2 separate regions of the Homo sapiens genome follow, and region 2 is linked to region 1. Evidence: fine-mapped expression QTL. A gene starts in region 1. The other region holds a variant in brackets. All regions are shown on one strand. Distances are between the middles of the regions. Region 1 holds the start of NAXD (NAD(P)HX dehydratase). Region 2 overlaps NAXD (NAD(P)HX dehydratase).

What was found. PIP is the estimated chance that this variant, and not a neighbour inherited with it, causes the effect.
Region 2: its variant is fine-mapped to the expression of NAXD in skeletal muscle (GTEx, PIP above 0.99). The same link has a PIP of 0.9 or more in spinal cord.

The regions. Positions count from the first base shown.
Region 1 is chr13:110,611,481-110,621,094 of GRCh38, forward strand. It overlaps NAXD (NAD(P)HX dehydratase), which reads left to right and starts at 4,065. Exons shown (of 10, transcript NM_001242882.2): 1 at 4,065-4,167. The coding sequence starts at 4,122. It overlaps NAXD-AS1 (NAXD antisense RNA 1), which reads right to left and starts at 4,873. Exons shown (of 1, transcript NR_182301.1): 1 at 1,602-4,873. RefSeq lists enhancers at 3,146-4,073, 4,975-5,024, 5,045-5,094 and silencers at 4,275-4,524, 4,535-4,694.
Region 2 is chr13:110,633,866-110,643,479 of GRCh38, forward strand. It overlaps NAXD (NAD(P)HX dehydratase), which reads left to right. Exons shown (of 10, transcript NM_001242882.2): 6 at 680-730; 7 at 807-911; 8 at 1,603-1,723; 9 at 3,264-3,384; 10 at 4,513-6,131. The coding sequence ends at 4,663. It overlaps CARS2 (cysteinyl-tRNA synthetase 2, mitochondrial), which reads right to left. Exons shown (of 15, transcript NM_024537.4): 14 at 8,450-8,656; 15 at 7,552-7,743. The coding sequence ends at 7,672. Among named protein-coding and RNA genes, the nearest start is that of NAXD-AS1, 22 kb to the left of the region's middle. RefSeq lists enhancers at 358-1,187, 1,188-2,016, 2,847-3,675. The variant T/C (reference allele first, on the strand shown) is at 4,832.

The sequences.
Region 1 (9,614 bases):
AGTGGCATCCAGAGACCCTCCGGAGACCTCCGACAGCTGTAGGTGATTGGGGGCGCCAATCACATAGGGGTCGGAGAGTGATGGAATGCACCTTAATTTTAATCTGAGTGTCATGGAAAACAGTTGGATGGTTCTATGCAGAGGAGTGACATGATCTGACTTATAGGAAAGATCATTCTATTGCTGTAGGAAAGCAGGGAGGTTAATTTATTAACAGAAGGTATTATGGGTTGAGTTGTGTCTCCTCAGAATATGTTAAATCCTAACCCCTAGTACCTGTGACTATAACCGTAACTGGAAGTGAGGTCTTTATAGATTATTGAATTAAGATGAGATGAGATCATTAGGGTGGGCCCTACTCCAATATGACTGGTGTCCTTAAAGGAGAGGAAAATCCCACGTGAGGACAAGGAGACCATCATGTGATGACAGAGGCAGAGGCTGGGGAGGGTGCCAAGGGCATTTTACAGTAAACCTGAAACACTCGTTCAGGCCGAGATGGAAAGGGGGGATGGATGCCTCATTATACCCTCCTCCCTTTGGAATTCAGGCACAGTTGACCAGCATTAACGTTAAAACAGAGACCTTAAGACTGACAAAGCAGAATTTTTGTAGCAATAAGATACCAATGTGACAGATTGCAAGCCCTGAAAGAAACTGGAGTATTTTACCCCAAATATATTCATTTGGCATATTTTGAAATAGCCTTGCAAAACTGTCTCTTTGGGGAAAAACATCTACATTCTGAGGAGACTCCCCTTCCTTTTCCAGGTCTTTTTCTTGATCCAGGAGATAATTTACTAAGAGTCCGGCACCTGAAGTTTGATAAGAAACATTTACAAAGTCCAGGTGAGGTGGGCCACACCTGTAATGCCAGCACTTTGGGAGTCTAAGGCAGAGGATCACTTGAGGTCAGGAGTTGGAGACCAGCCTGGCCAACACAGTGAAACCCTGTCTTTACTAAAAATACAAAAATTGGCCGGGTGTGGTGGTGCACGCCTGTAGTTCCAGCTACTTGGGAGGCTGAGTAGGGTGGATCGCTTGAACCTGGGGGGCAGAGGTTGCAGTGGGCCAAGATTGTGCCATTGGACTCCAGCCTGGGCAACAGAGTGAGACTCTGTCTCAAACAACAACAACAACAAAAAGAAACATCTACAATTCATTCTCTTTGAAGCCTGCTACCTGGAGGCCTCATCTGCACAACCCCTTATCTTAACCCAGACACTTCCTTCTACTGATTCCAAGTCTTTAAGTAAACTTTCTACCAATTGCCAATCAGAAAATCTTTGAATCCACCTATGACTGGAAGCTCCTCTCTTGGAGTTGTCCCACCTTTCTGGGCTGAACCAACGTACTTCTTACATGTACTGATTGATGTCTTCCGTATCCCTACCATGTATAAAACCAAGCTTAGCCCGACTACCCTGGGCACATGTTCTCAGGATCTGCAGGGGCTATGTTACAAGCCATGGTCACTCATCTTTGGATCAGAATAAATCTCGAATATTTTAGAGTTTGACTCTTTTCATTGACACTCATGCAGCAGACTATTGCCATCATCCAGGCCACACACTGTTAAATGGAAAAACCTTAGACACGTGTATGTTTTAACTGAGTGTATTTGAGCAAAACAAAACAGATTCCCGAATGGGGCAGCCCTCCAAACCAGAGCAGATAAGAGAACTCCAATCAGGAACCTGATCTGACAGCACCTATAGGAAACAGAAGTGTGTGATGGAGACAGCTAATTTGATTATAACTTCATTGCTTAACTGGTTACAGAGTTTCCTGCCATGAAGTAAAGCTCAGTTACTGTAGTTAAACTCCTTACTGGTTTGGTCTGGTAGGTGTAGTTCAGGGTTTCACTCTGTTATCAGAAAGGGGTTCCAATCCAGACCTCAAGAGGGTTCTTGGACCTTGTGCAAGAAAGAATTCTGGGCGAGTCCATAAATTGAAAGCAAACTTATTAAGAAAGGGAATAAAAGAATGGCTACTCCATAGGCAGAGCAGTGGCACTGGCTGCTTGACTGAATATACTTATGAGACTTGAAGCCAGCTGGACTTCCTGGGTCGAGTGGGGACTTGGAGAACTTTTCTGTCTTACAAGAGGATTGTAAAATGCACCAATCAGCACTCTGTAGCTAGGATTGTAAAATGCACCAATGAGCGCTCTGTAGCTAGCAAGAGGATTGTAAAATGCACCAATCAGTGCTCTGTAAAACGCACCAATCAGCAGGATCCTAAAAGTAGCCAATTGCAGGAAAGATTGAAAAAAGGGCATTCCGATAGGGCAGAAACAGAACATGGGAGGGGAGAAATAAGGGAATAAAAGCTGCCCCACCCCCCCACCCCCGCCAGCCAGCAGCAGCAATCCACTTGGGTCCCCTTCCATGCTGTGGAAGCTTTGTTCTTTTGCTCTTCATAATGAATCTTTTTTTTTTTTTTTTTGAGGTGGAGTCTCGCTCTGTGGCCCAGGCTGGAGTGCAGTGGCCCGATCTCGGCTCACTGGAAGCTCTGCCTCCCAGGTTCACGCCATTCTCCTGCCTCAGCCTCCTGGGTAGCTGGGATTACAGGCGCCCGCCACCATGTCCGGCTAATTTTTTGTATTTTTAGTAGAGACAGGGTTTCACCGTGTTAGCCAAGATGGTCTCGATCTCCTGACCTTGTGATCCACCCGCCTCGGCCTCCCAAAGTGCTGGGCTTACAGGCATGAGCCACCACGCCCGGCCTCTTCATAATAAATCTTGCTGCTGCTCACTCTTTGGGTCTATGCCACCTTTAAGAGCTGTAACACTGTGAAGGTCCGCAGCTTCATTCTTGAAGTCAGTGAGACCATGAACCCACCGGCAGGAACTAACTCCACACATAGTTATAGTTATCTCTTGATTATAGGCTAAATAAGGAGGGGATTATTCATGAGTTTTCTGGGAAAGAGGTTGGCAATTGCTGGAACTGAGGGTTCCTCCCCTTTTTAGACCATATAGAGTAATTTCCTGATGTTGCCATAGCATTTGTAAACTCTCATGGCGCTGGTAGGAGTGTCCTTTAGCATGCTAATACGTTATAATCAGCAAATAATGAGCAATGAGGACACAGAGGTCACTTTTGTGGCCATCTTGGTTTTGGTAGGCTTTGGGCCAGTTTCTTTACTGTGTCATCTTATCAGTGCGGTCTTTGTGACCTGTATCTTGTGCCCACCACCTCATCCTGTGGCCAAGAATGTCTAACCCCCTGGGAATGCAGCCCAGTAGGTCTCACCCTCATTTTACCCAGTCCCTATTCAAGATGGAATCGCTCTGGTTAAAAGGCCTCTGACATGTTGAGCCATCCTTTCACCTCAGCCTCTCAAGTAGCTGGACTACAGGTGTGCCACACCATCCCCTGCTAATTTTCCAAAAAAATTTTGGTAGAGAAGGGGGTCTCCTTATGTTGTCCAGGCTGGTCTCAAACTCCTGGGCTCAAACGATCCTTCCATCTTGGCCTCCCAAAGCATTGGGATCACACGCGCGAGCCACCGCACCTGGCCCCACAAGTTTCTTTTAGCACCATGACGGTGGCTTCAAATAGGGCGGCAGTGGAGGTAAGAGGCCATCAGCCACAGGAGGAGCGTGGGTGGGAGGGCAGGAGAGGTCAGAATGCCTTCCAGGGGTTTGGGCCTCAGCGTTGGAGTGATGGAGCTGCCCTGACCTGAGACGGTGGAAAGCGAAGGGGCCTCGCAGCGAGCTGGTTTGGGGTTCAGGGCAGAGGTTGCGCCTGGAGCAGAAAGGCACCTGACTGCTATACTGGGGGCACATAGTGGGCCTCGGCACTCCACCTGCCAGCAAAATCATTTTCTATAACGCCGCAAGCCTAAAAATGGGCCGATAAACACAAACCAGACCCTGAACCAGATCGTTGTTAACTCTTCAACCTGCCTTCCAGCCGAACCTCTTAGGCCAGAGCTGGGACCAGGCCGGGTTGGGCGTCGCGCTTGTCAATCATCTAGAACCGGGTGTGATTGAGCGAGTTGGGATCCCACTGCCGACAGCCGCGCGGAGGCGGTCGGGAAACCGGAAAACGCTTCCAATGGCTGTGTTTCCGGCGACGGCGCGGGGGCAGCTGGGAATCCGGAATGCTGCCCGATGGCCCTGGGTCCTCGCTGTGGGGCAATCCGGGCTTGCAGACGAGGTAAGGTCGATTCCATTTGGCCCGGGGATGGTCACACGCGCGGGGGCCGGAACTGCCGTCGCCGGCGCGGTCGTTGTCGCATTGCTCTCGGCCGCACTCGCGCTGTACGGGCCGCCACTGGACGCAGGTACCCGACCGCTGACCGCCTCTGCTGGCTCGCGGGGGGGAAGCGCCGCCGAGGGGCAGCCCGCGCGCGGGGCCGGGGCGCCGTGTGGCCTGCGGGGCGGAGTAGGGAGAGGACGGAGGCCTCCTGGAACGGCGCGGCGACGGCTGGGCGCGGCTTGGGTGATGGGAGCCTCCGTGCGGGGTGACAGAGGGGCAGAGGGTGGCGCCGGGCCGGAGCCAGTGCGCGTCCCAGGAGCGGCGGAGCCCGCGCGGTGGCCGGGGAACGGGGGGCCGAGGGCCGAGGACGGTAGGAGGGCCCTGGGGCGCCGTGGTGCGCTGGTCGGATCCGTCTGCTCTGCTCTGTCCCCGCTCCCGGTCTGGGAAAGATGCTCGCCAACTGCGGGCTTGCTGTTTGGTCGGAGCTGGATACGGGGGCCCTCCTGGGGCCCAGGGACGCGGCGGGCGTGCAGGCGAGCTGGCCGGCTGAGCGGGCTTCGCGCACACCAGGAGCAGGGCCGTGTCTGCATCCCCAATTTGAAGTCCCAGTGCGACTGGGCAAGTACAGACCCTGCACGTCCTTGGACGAGAGGGACTGGATATTGCGACGCCTGGGCCGCAGAAAAGGACTCCACCAGCCAGGCCTCCTTCGCCCGCCCCCGGTTCGGGGTGTGTGTGTGCGTGTAGGAGGTCCCTTGGGGAGGGAGGCTCACCTGAGTCATCCCCAGAACCTGAAGTGCTGGCCAGATGTCCCCGAGGGCCCTGCCCTGGCCTTGGCTGGTCCTTGCACGCTGAGATGCCTTTTCAAATAGAACGGATAAGGTAGAAAGAATTTAAACAGGAGCTGAGCAAGTGCTTGGAGCCCCATCTCTTCATAGGGTTTTTTTGTCTTTCTGTTTGCCTTGTTGGTATTGGTGTATCTAACATATTTTATACAGGAAGTAGTTCGTGTATATCTCATTTCTCATAAGGAGAGATTGCTGTTATCCACCTTGGTATAGAAGATAAATAGAAGCTCAGAGAAAGTGACTTAGCCAGGATTCTCCAGCCAGTGAGTGGCCGAAATGGTTAAACGCACCATTTGTTGCTGTAGTCATTAGATAGATTTTACCTTGTGTGTATGTTGGGCATCGTCAGAGAGTTTGGCTTTTTGTTTTCATCAGCACACACTGAGAATGCACTGGGTGGCGCTGAGAGGGTACTCTACACTGCACCTCACTCACACCAGCAGGGAGGCTTCTTAACACTTTATTTAGAGATTTATTTGTAGCTCTTTACCTTAAATTCACACACCGTGATTAGTAGCAAGATTTTTCATTGCGCTTGGTTGAGGATTTATTATCAGACTGCCTAAACTTTTACGAAAAGCCAGGTAGAGTTGTATATTACTGAGGCTTTAGGAAATATTTCAGTTAACTTAGGGATTGTGGTTAAATGCTCTAAATTAGTTATAACTCACATTAACTTAAAGTATTTTTGTTTTTTTAAGTAGAATTTTCCAGTACTAAAAGCACTTTTAGCACAAAGCAGCAGTGATAGTCTTCCCCAGACACGCTTCCTTAAAACAAAAGCCAAACAAATTTAACCTGTTCTTCCAGACTCAGAATTGTCTGAAGAGTTACCGAATGGGATACATCTTAAGTCGCCTATTGTCAAGGCCTTTTTATCCTTCAGAACTTTGATCTTTATATGTAAATGTTTCTGTGTTAACATTTGAAATGTTAAGTTCAAATGGTGACGTCAGTAAGCCAGCTGGAACTTGCTTCACTGCCAAGTGCTGGGAAGTTTAGTTGACCTGCTTTGGCCCTTTTGCTAACAGAAGCTGTTTATCTTAGGTGAATGCTGGTGAGCAGCCTGGATTTTACTTTGTGTTAATACAATTCTATTCAAGTGAAAATGCTATACTTCTTATTTTGCCTTAAAATGGCAGCATTTTACACCTACTGTGTGCCCACAAAAATAAAAACAAAAACATGGCAGCACTTTGGTAAAATAGTGTCTTGTGGCCTGGCTTGTCCATTACTAACCACAGCATCTGCACAGGTTTCTCTCTGGGCCCCAGTTTCCTTATCTGTAAAAGAAAGATAAAGTGCTAGTGAGGAGAGTGAATCACGATGTCTTGACTTCATCGAACATGTATCAAGTGTCTTGTTCTGTGCCAGGCTGTGTTCGAGGTGATTGAGTCCCACATGGAAGCAGTCAGTGCTGCAGCTTGCGGATGGTGCCACATTCCTCGTGGGCAGGCAGTAGTAGGGTGCTGATTCTCTGCCAGTCCAGACATAAGAACTTCCTTCTTATGTCCAGGTCAGCCCCTACCATGTAGGTTGTCTGTGTGCTCGAAAGGTTTCAGAACCCCACATGTAATAATAGTTACTTTTGGTATCACTTTGAATTTTTAAAATTATGTAGCAAAAAAGTTACTATTAATTATATTATGAGTTTAACATAATTTTAAGCTAGCTTCCATTTGAGAGCCGTTGTTCTCATGTGTAAATCTTGAAATATTCAGTTTCTGGATGGCGCTTCTTGTTCTCCAGGGTTCTTAGACCCAGCCCTTACGGTAGCATCATGGCCAGGGAACTGGGAATCTCACAAAGTCTTAAGATTTCACAACGGAACAGGAGCAGGAGGAGGCGACTCCCGCTGGTGGGTTGATCAAGTTGCTGTGAAGGTGGTTTGCACATTTTGGGCTTCAAAACACTACCTTCTGTATAAGATAAAGGAATAGCTCAGAACAGGATTCCCCCCGTGTTTTCTTCCTAGCTATGATAAAGATTGCCGTGTGAATGCAGTGGGTTTTACACACTCAGAATTGATATTTTTGGCTTGTGGTAAATGGGACTTTAATGCTTAACCTGCTGTAGAAAAATCCGCCTTAGAAAGTGGCCCTTATTCGTATATTGTATTCGATGTTTGAGCCCCCTGATATCTTATCATTTTAACAAAGCTTACCTTGAAGTGCAGGAAAAATTGTATGTGTTCTTGTCATTATTTGAATAACAACAAAAATCAGTATTAGCTTTAAAGCCTGTAGGTTTTAAGCGTATCCTTGCCTGGACTAGCATATCTCCTCTTTCTCAACCAAAAAGATCAGAAAGGTGCTATCCCAGTACCAAAAGTACTGGGAGGACTTTCAGCAGAGTGTGACGCAGAAGGGAAGCTTTTCCGCTCTGGGGAGCAGATGCGGAGAGGACAAGCACTTGGAACACAGCATCCCTGGGAGCTCTGGTGCTGCAGTTGTGACCCCGAGGCGGCCCTGCTGTGCCCTCCTGGGAGTGCTGGGCGACACTGGTTGCAGAGGGGCATTGGTGCTCCCCTCCACCTGACAGGTGCTCCACCTGGACTCGTGGCTGCAGCTTAATTTTGTGTCAGATCCTTTCCGGTAATGTATAGGTTATTTCAACTATGAGGCAAAGTGCAAATGGGTAGTTCAGTGTGGGTTTATGGTATTTGCCCTTTTTGATATAAACATTAAATATTTCATACCTCACCTATAGTACTTTTTTTAAGACTTAAATCTGAAATTTAAGATACAGATGTTTGTAAGATATGAATCTTGGATATTGGGAGAAAGAAGCCTCCTGGAAAATATACAGTATTATCTGGTGGAACCATTTTATTCCTTTTCTTATTGTGAGAAATACACATTTATGAAGTATTACCATTTAGGAGTTGTTTTCATCAGGCAGGGTACATTGATATAAATGTTGATTTTTAACATCCGTAAGTTGAAGTCTGACTAAATTGTTTTTCTCTGTGATTTCATAAGTCACAATTTATATTTTATATGACCTTAAATATTTAATTTGAAGTACTGGTATATTTAAAGGTGCTAAAACTACACGCATGCATCTCTACTAGTGGTTCTTAACCCAGGCTCATTTTGCCCCATCCAGAAGACATTTGGGAGTGTTGAGATATTGCTGGTTGTCACCACTGGGTGCGTGTACATGCACTGCTGACTGGGTAGAAGCCGGGGATGCTGCTCAGCATCCTTCAGTGCATAGAACAGCTCCCCACGACAAAGACAGGATGCTGATCGATACCCATAAATGTCTTTTTTTTTGAGACAAGAGTCTCGCTGTGTCACCCAGGCTGGAGTGCAGTGGCATAATCTTGGCTCACTGCAGCCTCCACCTTCTGGGTTCAAACAGTTCTTCTGCCTCAGCCTCCCGAGTAGCTGGAATTACAGGCATGCACCACCGTGCCCAACTAATTTTTGTATTTTTAGTAGAGATGGGGTTTCACTATGTTGGCCAGGCTGGTCTCGAACTCCTGACCTCAAGTGATCCACCCACCTTGGCCTCCCAAAGTGCTGAGATTACAGCGGGGAGCCACTGCGCCTGGCCCCATAAATGTCTCTTCTAGACAAGTGTATTGTTTTAAAACCATAATTTAGCCCTCCTGGAGGGATTTCAAGGATGGGTGCATTGGTCCCCTGCAGGTAGCTCAGCAAGCTTCATTGTGTCTCTCCTTGGCCCACAGTTTATAGTGATTCTGTGCCGGGTCTTGTGTGTTGGTCTGGAAGAAGGTGAAAAGATTTGGGGTTGGGCTGAGCGCGGTGGCTCACACCTGTAATCCTAGCACTTTGGGAGGCCGAGGTGGGCAGATCACAAGGTCAGGAGATCGAGACCACCCTGGCCAACATGGTGAAACCCCGTCTCTGCTAAAAATACAAAAATTAGCTGGGCGTGGTGGCATGCGCCTGTAGTCCCAGCTACTCAGGAGGCTGACGCAGGAGAATTGCTTGGACCAGGGGGTCGTAGGTTGCAGTGAGCCGAGATTGTACCACTGCACTCCAGCCTGGCGACAGAGTGAGACTCTGTCTCAAAAAAAAAAAAAAAAAAGAATTTGGGTTGATGGGGATTCATAGGATCTTTTTATCTTGGGGAATCCCAGCATCTGCTCTATCAGCTAAGGCAGTTACATCTACTCATAAAGAAAATTCCTTCAAAAGTTTTGTTGAGTAAAAAGTAAAACTGTAAGAGTTAAAAGACAAAGCTCTTTTGCTGTGAAACGCTCAGTGAGCTTTGGACTGCAGTCAGTGGAACTTGTGACACTGGTTTTTCTCTGCTGCTGAGATAATTGGAAGGATAAAAATATTGAGTGCCTTGTTTGAAAAAATACTGTTTATATTTGCAAAGATCCTTTCATTCTAGGGAGAATGTATGCTTTATTCATTGAGCTCTATAGAACATACCAGCATTTCTCTCATAGCCGAGCTGTTTTAAATATTAAGGTAAAATATATAACACAGGAAGCTCTTCAAGAAAGGCCAATTGAAGTGTAGCTGTTTAGAGACAACTCAAGATGATGAAAATACATTAAATGCCACTTTGAACCCA
Region 2 (9,614 bases), 22 kb after region 1:
ATATGAAAAATACATAATGACTAATGATTTGGGGAATTCTCAGGAATTCAGATTTCCTGCCTCCGAATGCTGCGTATTAGTATCTGTTGGAGAACTGGATGCCCTTGCTGGGGCGGGGGCTGTCTTCATGGGTTAGCCTAGGAGCCCAGCTGTTGTTCATAGCGTTTCCAGTGGGCTTCGCCTTTCAGAGTTCCCAGTGTCCTGCCTTGTTTACGGGCTCTGCGAGTTCATTGGGTCTTTCTGCTTCTCTATTTTATTCATTTACTTGATTATTTTCCATTTATTGTTTGATGGCCTGATGTTGCATTTTATTAAGAGTCTGCTCAATTTTCTGTCACTCTTGGGAAAAGTGTCTTAGTCGGTTTTGCGCTGCTGTAGCCGTACCACAGACTGGGTAATTGATAATGAACAGGCGTTTACTGGCTCACAGTTCTGAAGGTGGATGTCCAACATCAAGGTGCCGGCATCTGGCGAGGGCAGAAGGGCAGGAGAGAGACCCTTATGCCTCTTTTAAAGGTCATTAAACCAACCCATGAGGACACTGCCACATCACCTTTTAAAGGCCCCACCTCCCAGGACCCTTCCCTTGGCAATTAAGTTTCACCATGAGTTTTGAGAAGACACATACCCACACCATAGCAGCAGGCATGGTGCTCAGTCTGGTTTTCTCTTCTGGCAGGGCATTTTGGAAGTGTCAAAGGCCAGGGACATCCCTGTTGTCATCGACGCGGTGAGTTGACTTCTCTCCTCCTGGCTCGGACTCCCGGAAGGCCTGTGCAGTGAGCACGGCTCCTTGTTCTGTGCAGGATGGCCTGTGGCTGGTCGCTCAGCAGCCGGCCCTCATCCATGGCTACCGGAAGGCTGTGCTCACTCCCAACCACGTGGAGTTCAGCAGACTGTATGACGCTGTGGTGAGTCAGTGGACCCCCTGGAGGGTAGATGCAAGCCCTGTTCGTCCTGAAGAGGGTGAAGGACGAGCTCCATGCTTCTGCCCAGCCTGTCCCTGTGGACACACCTGCAAGTAATCGCTGTGCCTCTCCCAGCGGATGGCGCGTCTTCCCATTAATGCGCTTGGATTGGATGAACGATGGTGTAGTGGGCTTGGGACAGGCAGGGACTCGGGTCAGTCAGCCCCTCCTGCAGTGCACTCTGGACAGGTCACTTTGTCTGTGTCCTGAGTGCCTCATCTGTAATGTGATGATGGCATCAGCTTCACGGGGTTGTGAGGATGAGATGAGGAAACCTATGTAAAGCCGTGAGTCCCCACATGGTAAGTGTCCCATCAATGTTAGTGCCCAGTACGACTGGAATTTGTATTACTCCTGCAAAGCTCTCAGAACCCAGTCTTGGGTGGTCCTCCTTCAGCCTGCTCTGATGAGGTAGAGGATGGGCACTGGAGCAGGCACCGTGTCAGCACCTGCTCGGAGGACTCACTGCAGGTGATATCCTGGGCATCCTCCCACCTACATGGCCTTTAACAGGTGCCTGGGTGATCCCTTTAGACACGAGAGCATGAGTCTCATGGCGGATGGGACAGGGCTATCTGTCGTCGTGTGTCTGAGGAAGACTTTGCTTTTTCTCTGTCTTCCTGTGTTGTCATAGCTCAGAGGCCCTATGGACAGCGATGACAGCCATGGATCTGTGCTAAGACTCAGCCAAGCCCTGGGCAACGTGACGGTGGTCCAGAAAGGAGAGCGCGACATCCTCTCCAACGGCCAGCAGGGTGAGTGGCGGCTGCCCTCTGTGCATGGGCCAGTGCCAGGTCAGTCAGCATGGCCACACCGAGCATGAGCCCTGGAAGACCTCTCCCGTGCACACCCGTGTTCACACACATTCACACAGGGATTCCTGATGAGCTCGTCAACCACACTTTCTTCAGAGTCCATGTTTTGACTTTTCACTGTTTTGCCAGGGGAGGTGACAGTGGTGAGGGCAGGCTTTCGAGCCGTGGGCCTTACCCGTTGGTTGAATTCCCTTGCCTCAGTTATGAGAAGCAGTCTGGCGGGAGGGTGCCTGCAACAGCAGGGCACAGTGCAGGGTCCCGCGTCTCCAGCTGCCACCTTCATCTCACCTGTGGCATCCACCATCCATGCAGTTATTTGGGTATTTTATTGCATTTCATTCTCTTTTATCAAAATGACTGGAAAGTGCAGAAAGCCCCGAAGCTGATGCTGGTAGTGGAATCTCAGGCACTGAGTGTGGCGAGTCTCAACTGGCCACTCCCACGGAGCCTGGGGAGGCTTCAGCAAGAGCCAAGTGAGAGCAGGGCAGAGGCCGGGCCCAGCGCCAGCGAGGCATCTGGGGAGCCGTGCCCTTGTTAGCGCTGAAAATGGAAGCCCCTCCATTCAGGCCTGGACAGATGATGGGCAGCGAATGTGCTCACCTGCTGAGCTGTGGGGCTGGACTAGGTACCAAAATCAGGGTAGAACACTGAGGCGTCTGTGGGCGGGTGTGTGCACATCCACACTTGTACACTCACATTCACATGCACATATGTGCACACGCATGCAATTCATACACATGCACAGTTGTGCTCACAGCCTCGCACGCCCTTGCACACTCGCACTTATACACATGCATGGTCATGCTCACAGCCTCGCACACGCCCTCGCACACTCATCCACACACAGCTGTGCACAAGGAACACAGAGCAGATGTTCTCAGAGGGACTCTGACACCTTTGAGATGAGGGTTTTTTAATCACTGGAAGGCTCTCTTGGGTCTAACAGGTTCAGAGAATGTAACACCTGGTTTTCAAAACATTTTTCAAAGAAATAGAGAATTCCCATACACAGGCATACGTGACGTTATGAGGCCGGTGGAGGCCTCGCTCGGTGTTGCCCTGTATGGTTGAGCTGTGGTTTAAGGTGAACTCTGGAGTGTGGGCTGCAGGTGAGGGCTCCGTCCCTGGGAGCTGGTGGGAGGAGCTGGAGGCTGGCGCCGCCCTGCTCAGAGCTGCCTGCTTGGGCTCGTCTGAGGCGGTTCCGAGCTGCAGGTGTCTCCACCAACCTGCTGTGCTACACAGCGGGGTCTGGGGCAGCCTCACCACTGCGTGTCTTGGTTTCCTCTTCTGTAAAACAGAGGCTGCCTCCAACCCTTGGAACAAACAGGGAAGAGCCGTAGCAGGCAGGATGTGAGTGGAGCCTCAGGCTGCTCCTGGAGGGTGTGGCTCTGCCTGCCGTGCGGCCTTCCACACCCGTGGCTACTGTCACATTCACACACATGGCCATGCTGACACCTGCTCTCACTTCTGCCCTGTGCAGTGCTTGTGTGCAGCCAGGAAGGCAGCAGCCGCAGGTGTGGAGGGCAAGGGGACCTCCTGTCGGGCTCCCTGGGCGTCCTGGTACACTGGGCGCTCCTTGCTGGACCACAGAAAACAAATGGGTAAGGCCACGTCTTCATTTATTCTACTTTGAAACCGTCTGATTTTTCTAAGCTGTTTCAGTAGCTCATGCGTTGAATAAGTAGCCCTGGAAACACTGACAATGAACTCTAGGCTTCACTGGAGAGATCTCGGCACAGACGAACCCTCTTGGCAGAAGCTTCCACCCCACACTTGGGCCTGGGCCTGTCCATCATTCACTGTGGATGGGGCCTGGGGCAGGGGTGGTCTTCAGAGCTCTCCAGAGAGTTCCGAGGTGCAACCAAGGCCCAGCAGCACGCTGTTCTGGGAAGTTGAGTGGTTTATTCTGTGTAACACAGAATACTAAGATAGAAAACAGACAGGGTCAAGGCTTACTTAGACACTTGTTCTTAAAGATGTGAATTTTCTTTAAGAGACAGCAGAATTCTAGGACCAGGGCCCTTGGCCCAGTTCTGTAGTCAGAGAACTTTATGAATGCAAGCAGTTCCCATACCTCTAAGCATCTCCATTTCTCTTCTGTGAGCCCATCAAGGTGGTGGCTGCAGGTGCTAGGTGTGGCAGACCCGGGCTTCTGGAGGGTGGGCAGGGCTGTCATCCAGTGGCCTCATGTGTCCTCATTGCCGGGATGGCAGAGTCTGGGACCATCCCCCAAACTAGGTGTGTCCACATGAATTTGAGAGCCGAGGAGGTAGGGGTGTGGGCAGGAGTCTTACTGTTCATTCTGCTGTGTTCACTCGAGTTGCCTCCACCCCTCCCCCAGGAGATGGAGCCCTGGTAGCAGGAATCCCCATTCTCAGACCTCAGATGCCCTCTGCACCTGGGCACTGAGAGCACAGTCAAACAGGGCTAAGCAGCTTGTGCCGCCTGGCTTTCCCCGGGAACACCTGGCCCACTGTGTGCCCTAGCCCTGGACCTGTCTCCGAGTACATAGACGTTTCCTGTGTGCCTCCTGCCAGGGAGTAGTGGAGGGTTAATGGTGGTTTTCGCTGTGATAAACCTGCTTTCTCCTCAGGGGCATATCAGACTTGAAATTGACAATTTGGGGTCCTGAGATTGAAACAGGAGTCAAAACCAGAGCCCAGGGTAGCTGCGGCCCCCGGACCACGACGCCCACTTCCCCACACCTCCTGCTGTCCCCCTCTCCGCAGGTCCAGCCCTCTCCTGGTGGCCGCGTTTGGCGCCTGCTCTCTCACCAGGCAGTGCAACCACCAAGCCTTCCAGAAGCACGGTCGCTCCACCACCACCTCCGACATGATCGCCGAGGTGGGGGCCGCCTTCAGCAAGCTCTTTGAAACCTGAGCCCGCGCAGACCAGAAGTAAACAGGCACCTTGGACGGGGGAGAGCGTGTGTGTGATGGGAAAATCCGGACCCACGCGTGTGCTGAAGGCGTACGGTGCTTGCCAGATTTTCAACTTGAGCATAAATTGGTTGCCATTGAGAATTTAAGAATCTGGAATATTGCAGCT[T/C]TTGGTTAAACTTAATGCATGGTTGGAGATGTTATGGCGACACTAAACAAAGTATTCCTGAACTTTCCTTAGCTCCTTGGTAGTAACTGGGAAGACAGAAATGAAGAAAATCACATGAGAATGAAGAATTCTTTAGCAGCTCAACAGAGTTTCTCGGCCTGCTCCCAGATCGGCGAAGTTTCTACTTGTTACTCTCTCTGCCGGCGCCCTTCGTTCCTCCTCTGCTTCCCTTCCCTAGTCTTTCCTCCGGCAGGGAGCTGGGCAGGGGTCCCCGGGTGTCTCCCTGAGTCCCGACTGCACTGACTGGGTCCATCAGAGGGCTGCTTCGTTCTCCAGCTCATCTTCTTTTAAAGTGGTGACTAGCTTGGTGGTATCTGGCTGCTGGTGTTTGGCTTATTGACATACTCCAGGGTAATCAATGATGACTTTGTTTGGAAACCCTTTTGGAGGCACCATGGGAACAGAAGGAAACATGAGTGACGCTGACCCTTGAGTGTGTGGGTGGGGAGCTCTGAGACGCCTCCTGTCCCACGCTCTCCGGTGTCCGTGTCTACACAGGGGTCCCCATGATACCCACCGGCCCCAGCAGGGCAGACCGGACCGGGGACGGGCACGGTGAAGGGCTGCAGCCTGGGGTCTGACGTGGCCCCTAGTGCTGTCTCAGGAGAAGGCTCTGGAGGACTTGAGGCATGCTGGGCCTGGTGCAGTGATGGCGCTAAGGAGACCCGGGGAAAGACAGTATCGTGGTCACGTATGCTTAGGAAGCAGCACAGCCGTGTCCTTAGGGATGTTCGCGTCCAGTAAAGACACTGGTAACTGCGGTTTCAGCCAACACTCTTCATGGCAGTGTCGACCTCGGGTTAGCTTCTGTTGTCTTTGTGGATGGTTTTCCTGGAGCGGCCTGACGTTGACGTGTTCTCTGGTCCCATGTCTTAGCGGGGCATGGTACGGTTTCGTGCCTGACGCGTGCATTAGGGTGTTCTCTTATACTTTCAGTAGCATCTTTCCACAGCAAGGGCCAAACCCTCCTGGTTCCCTTCAGAGTCTTTTTGGCCTGATGATGACTCTTGAGTGATACCCTGTGATGCAGACATGCCCCAGATGGATTCTACTTTCTTTAAAACTAGGGACTTTCAAGATTAAAAAAAAGATTGTCACTACTAATTTGACGCCTAACTTCAGAAGCTTCACTGTCTACATGTGAACTTTTCCAGAAAAACTGTGCCATGGACATTTTTCCTCTGGGGAATTAACATCTAAATTCTGGTAACTATTAAAAGACAGATCTGGTTAATTTAAATTGAGTATTGTATTTTTTTCCTTAAACAGCTAAAGCTCACCTTTCAACTTTCTTAGGTGAGGACATTGTGTGAGATGCCAGGGAGATAAGAATATCTAAGCCTGTCTGTGTGAGATTGGCCTCCTCGCCAGCGCCTCTCCCGTGGTGGCTGCAATAAAGCACCTTGAAGGATAAGCCCAAGGCAGCCCCTTCTTTCCTTAGGAAATAGAATTCAGCAGTCACAGGAACTATTCGTCTGGTTTTTGTTCTAAGTAAAACATCCCTTTGCTTAAAGGAGAGAATGGGTTTTTTTACAAGCAGCTCATTGCTTCCATGTTCTTTCTCAAACCCACGTATTTCACGCACTCGCTCCAGCCGGACACGCTCCCAGGAGCTTCCCTGGACCAGGAGAGCAACGGGAAAGTGTGGGGGGGTGGGCGGCCCGTAATGCCCCAGTACTGAGCAGCCCTGTCGAGATGCCTCATTGTAAGGAGCCCTCTGGGGACTTTTTCTATGTGGGTAGCTTTACTAGGGTGATTTTCTAGGTGAGTGACTTCTGAACTGTAGACAGGAGACCTGTACCTCAGGGTCACGGTTAAATGATGAGCAAGCCCGTATCCCCAGTCACGGGTCCCGCTGCTGCCTGTGCCCTTGGGATTCAGAGATGCCAGTGTGACAGGGAGAGGCCTGGCCCAGGGTCTGCGAGCAGGAAGAGTGGAGAGGGGTCACCCTGCTGAGTCACTGACAGCTGTGGCGCTGGGCTTACCACAGAAGGGTGAGATCAGGAGCAAGGTGGGTGCTTCAGGAGGCCACCGGTCCTGTAGCCCAGGCAGCCTGCCGTGTGCTGGCCGCCACCTCCCGCTCAGGAATCCTGTCTGTCACAGCTCGCCAGCTGGCTTTCAGCCTGGCTGCCCTGACTCCTCCGGAACCAACCTTTCCCAGGCCCAGCTCGACCCCATCACTGCTCTGCACAGACCATGACCACCAAGATGGCCTGCAGCTGCCAGGATGTTAACTGCAGCGGGACTGCAGACGGGTTCTCAGCTGCATTTTTCCTATGCTGAATACGTTACTTTTGTAACCAGAGAGAAAACGTAAGATTGTGTTCTTGCTGGGGGAGGTGTCCCGGGGTTAGCATTGCTGGCGTCCCACCTCTGCTTCAGACTATGCTGCGTGGCCCACCCACCTCACCCATCCCCAGCCCCTCCCTCAGGAGGAAACAGGCTGCATTCTGCCGCCTCCCGGGGTCCCTGCTCTTCTGTTGGCTGTGTTGTCTGTTCCCTGGGCACAGGGCCAGCAGGTCTCACGCACAGGCACGTGTGCTGCTGGATGCTACTGAATGTCTGACACTACTTCACTCAATCGACGGTGAGTCTGTAGCCACAGAACGCAGTGAGTGTTTAGGCTCAGTTACTAACAAACAGACGCCAGTGGGACACTGTTGGTTGCCTTACTTTAATGCTGACCTAGCAGCCCCGACAGGAAGCTTTAACATAAAGCCTTGACCCTGAGAAGCATGGGTGCGTCTTGTCGTGAGCAGGTTCATGGCTGTGCTCCATCCTCAGCCCGCTGATTTTTGGTCTTTTGTCCTTTGATCCAGCAGTTCCCACGTGGATGTTGTACTGCTTCTGTCCTGGAGAAGAAGAGTGAGGTCCAACTCTGAGCAGACACCACGTCATGTGGCACAGGGGGCTGACAGGCGTAATCAGGTTCAGGGTGCCTGTTCCCTCACCGGCCTGTCCTAAAAAGCTTGCCAGGCGCTTAGAAAGGGCCCCACTACCTCCAGCAGAAGGCCAGGAGCTTCAAGGCACCTGCAGGAGGTGGCGGGGGCTGAGCAGGACCCACGTCCCCGTGCTCAGCGTCCCCTGCAGCCAACTTGGCCCCTCCCTCACGGCCCTCCCACCTCATTTTTTATGGGGGTGGGTTTCTCTACTCAGAAGCATGGGCAGGGCGCAGTGGCTCACGCCTGTAATCCTGGCACTTTGGGAGGCTGAGGTGGGAGGATCACCTGAGGTCGGGAGTTTGAGACCAGCCTGACCCACGTGGAGAAAACCTGTCTCTACTAAAAATAAAAAATCAGCCGAGCATGGGAGTGCATGCCTGTAATCCTAGCTACTCAGGAGGCTGAGGCAGGAGAATCGCTTGAACCTGGGAGGCAGAGGCAGAGGTTGTGGTGAGCCGAGATCACGCCATTGCACTCCAGCCTGGGTGACAAGAGTGAAACTCCGTCTCAAAAAAAAAGCATGGTCACGGGGGATGTCTGGGCCTCTGATGGCCCCACGTCCTGTTGACCTACCCGGCTCCTGGGGTGATGTCCCTGACCTTGGTGCGGCACTCACCTTGATGTTGATGCCGTGGGCAGTCAGGCCCCGGCGCAGGGTGTCGCATGCTTCCAGCAGGGGCTGCCTTTCTAGGAGCTGCTGCCGCCGGGCGTCCCCCGTGGCCTCGGGCATGGCCAGCGCAAACTGCCGGACCTTCTGCCGGAACCGCACCAGCTCGTCCACCACACCATGCAAGGTAGCCTCGCTGCCGTCTCCTGAAACGTACTGAAGCCAGCAGGGCGCGGTTACGTCCCCCGGAGACTGTGGATTGTGGATGCCCCCTCCCCACCCCGTGGTTGGGCTCTGGGCCGACACCCACCCAGCCCTGGGCTTCCCTGATTCCCTGCAGCTGGGCCTCTTTCTGGGTCTGGCAGGGATGGGTACAGCCCGCGAGCGCTGGGCTCTGGGCAAGGCTCCACTCAACTCTGAGCATCTGTCGTCCAAGCAAGGCTGAGTGATCCTCACTCGGGAGTTGGAAGAAAGGGCTGGGGGCTGCATGCCGCCCCGCCCTGAACACAAACGCTCCCTGGCTTCCAGACCTCACGCAATTGTGGCCGAGGTATCAGGAGCAACCTGAGGATGAGGCTGGGGGGCAGCGACTGAGCGCTTGCACACGTGTGTTTCGGCAAATGGTCTGAGATTCACAGCCTCAGGTGCTGAGGACGGGATTTGCGCAGAAGGCCTCGCGCTGTCCTCCCACTGAGAACAGATCCTGGGGCGGTGTGGAAGGGGCAGCTGTACCTATTTGTTAAATCCATGTGTGTAAAATAAGAAACAGACACAACATTTGACCTTGGTGTCAAACTACTTAAACCTCACACACCCCTCAGTTATTGCTTCCATGATAAAAGACAGTTTTTGTTATTACAGAAATATGAGCCCAGAGTGGGCCCAGACATTGGGCCTTGCGGCCAGAGGAAGGTGAATGAGATATCTTTGACAAGGGCTAGGCAGAGCTTGGCCAGATCCCACTTTTCTTACTCAAAACAGACTCCGGAAAGCCACCCCTAAAAATGAACATGTACATTGCAAAAACTTGGGTCATCTCACACCAGTCGACTTTTATGTGATTGGCAACAGACGCCGGACTGCTGGAAAGGGGAACTAAGTCTACCAGGTGATCAACAGGTATACAAATGAGCCAAACTTGGAAAAGACACTATAGTTCTCTGTTGAGAGCCAG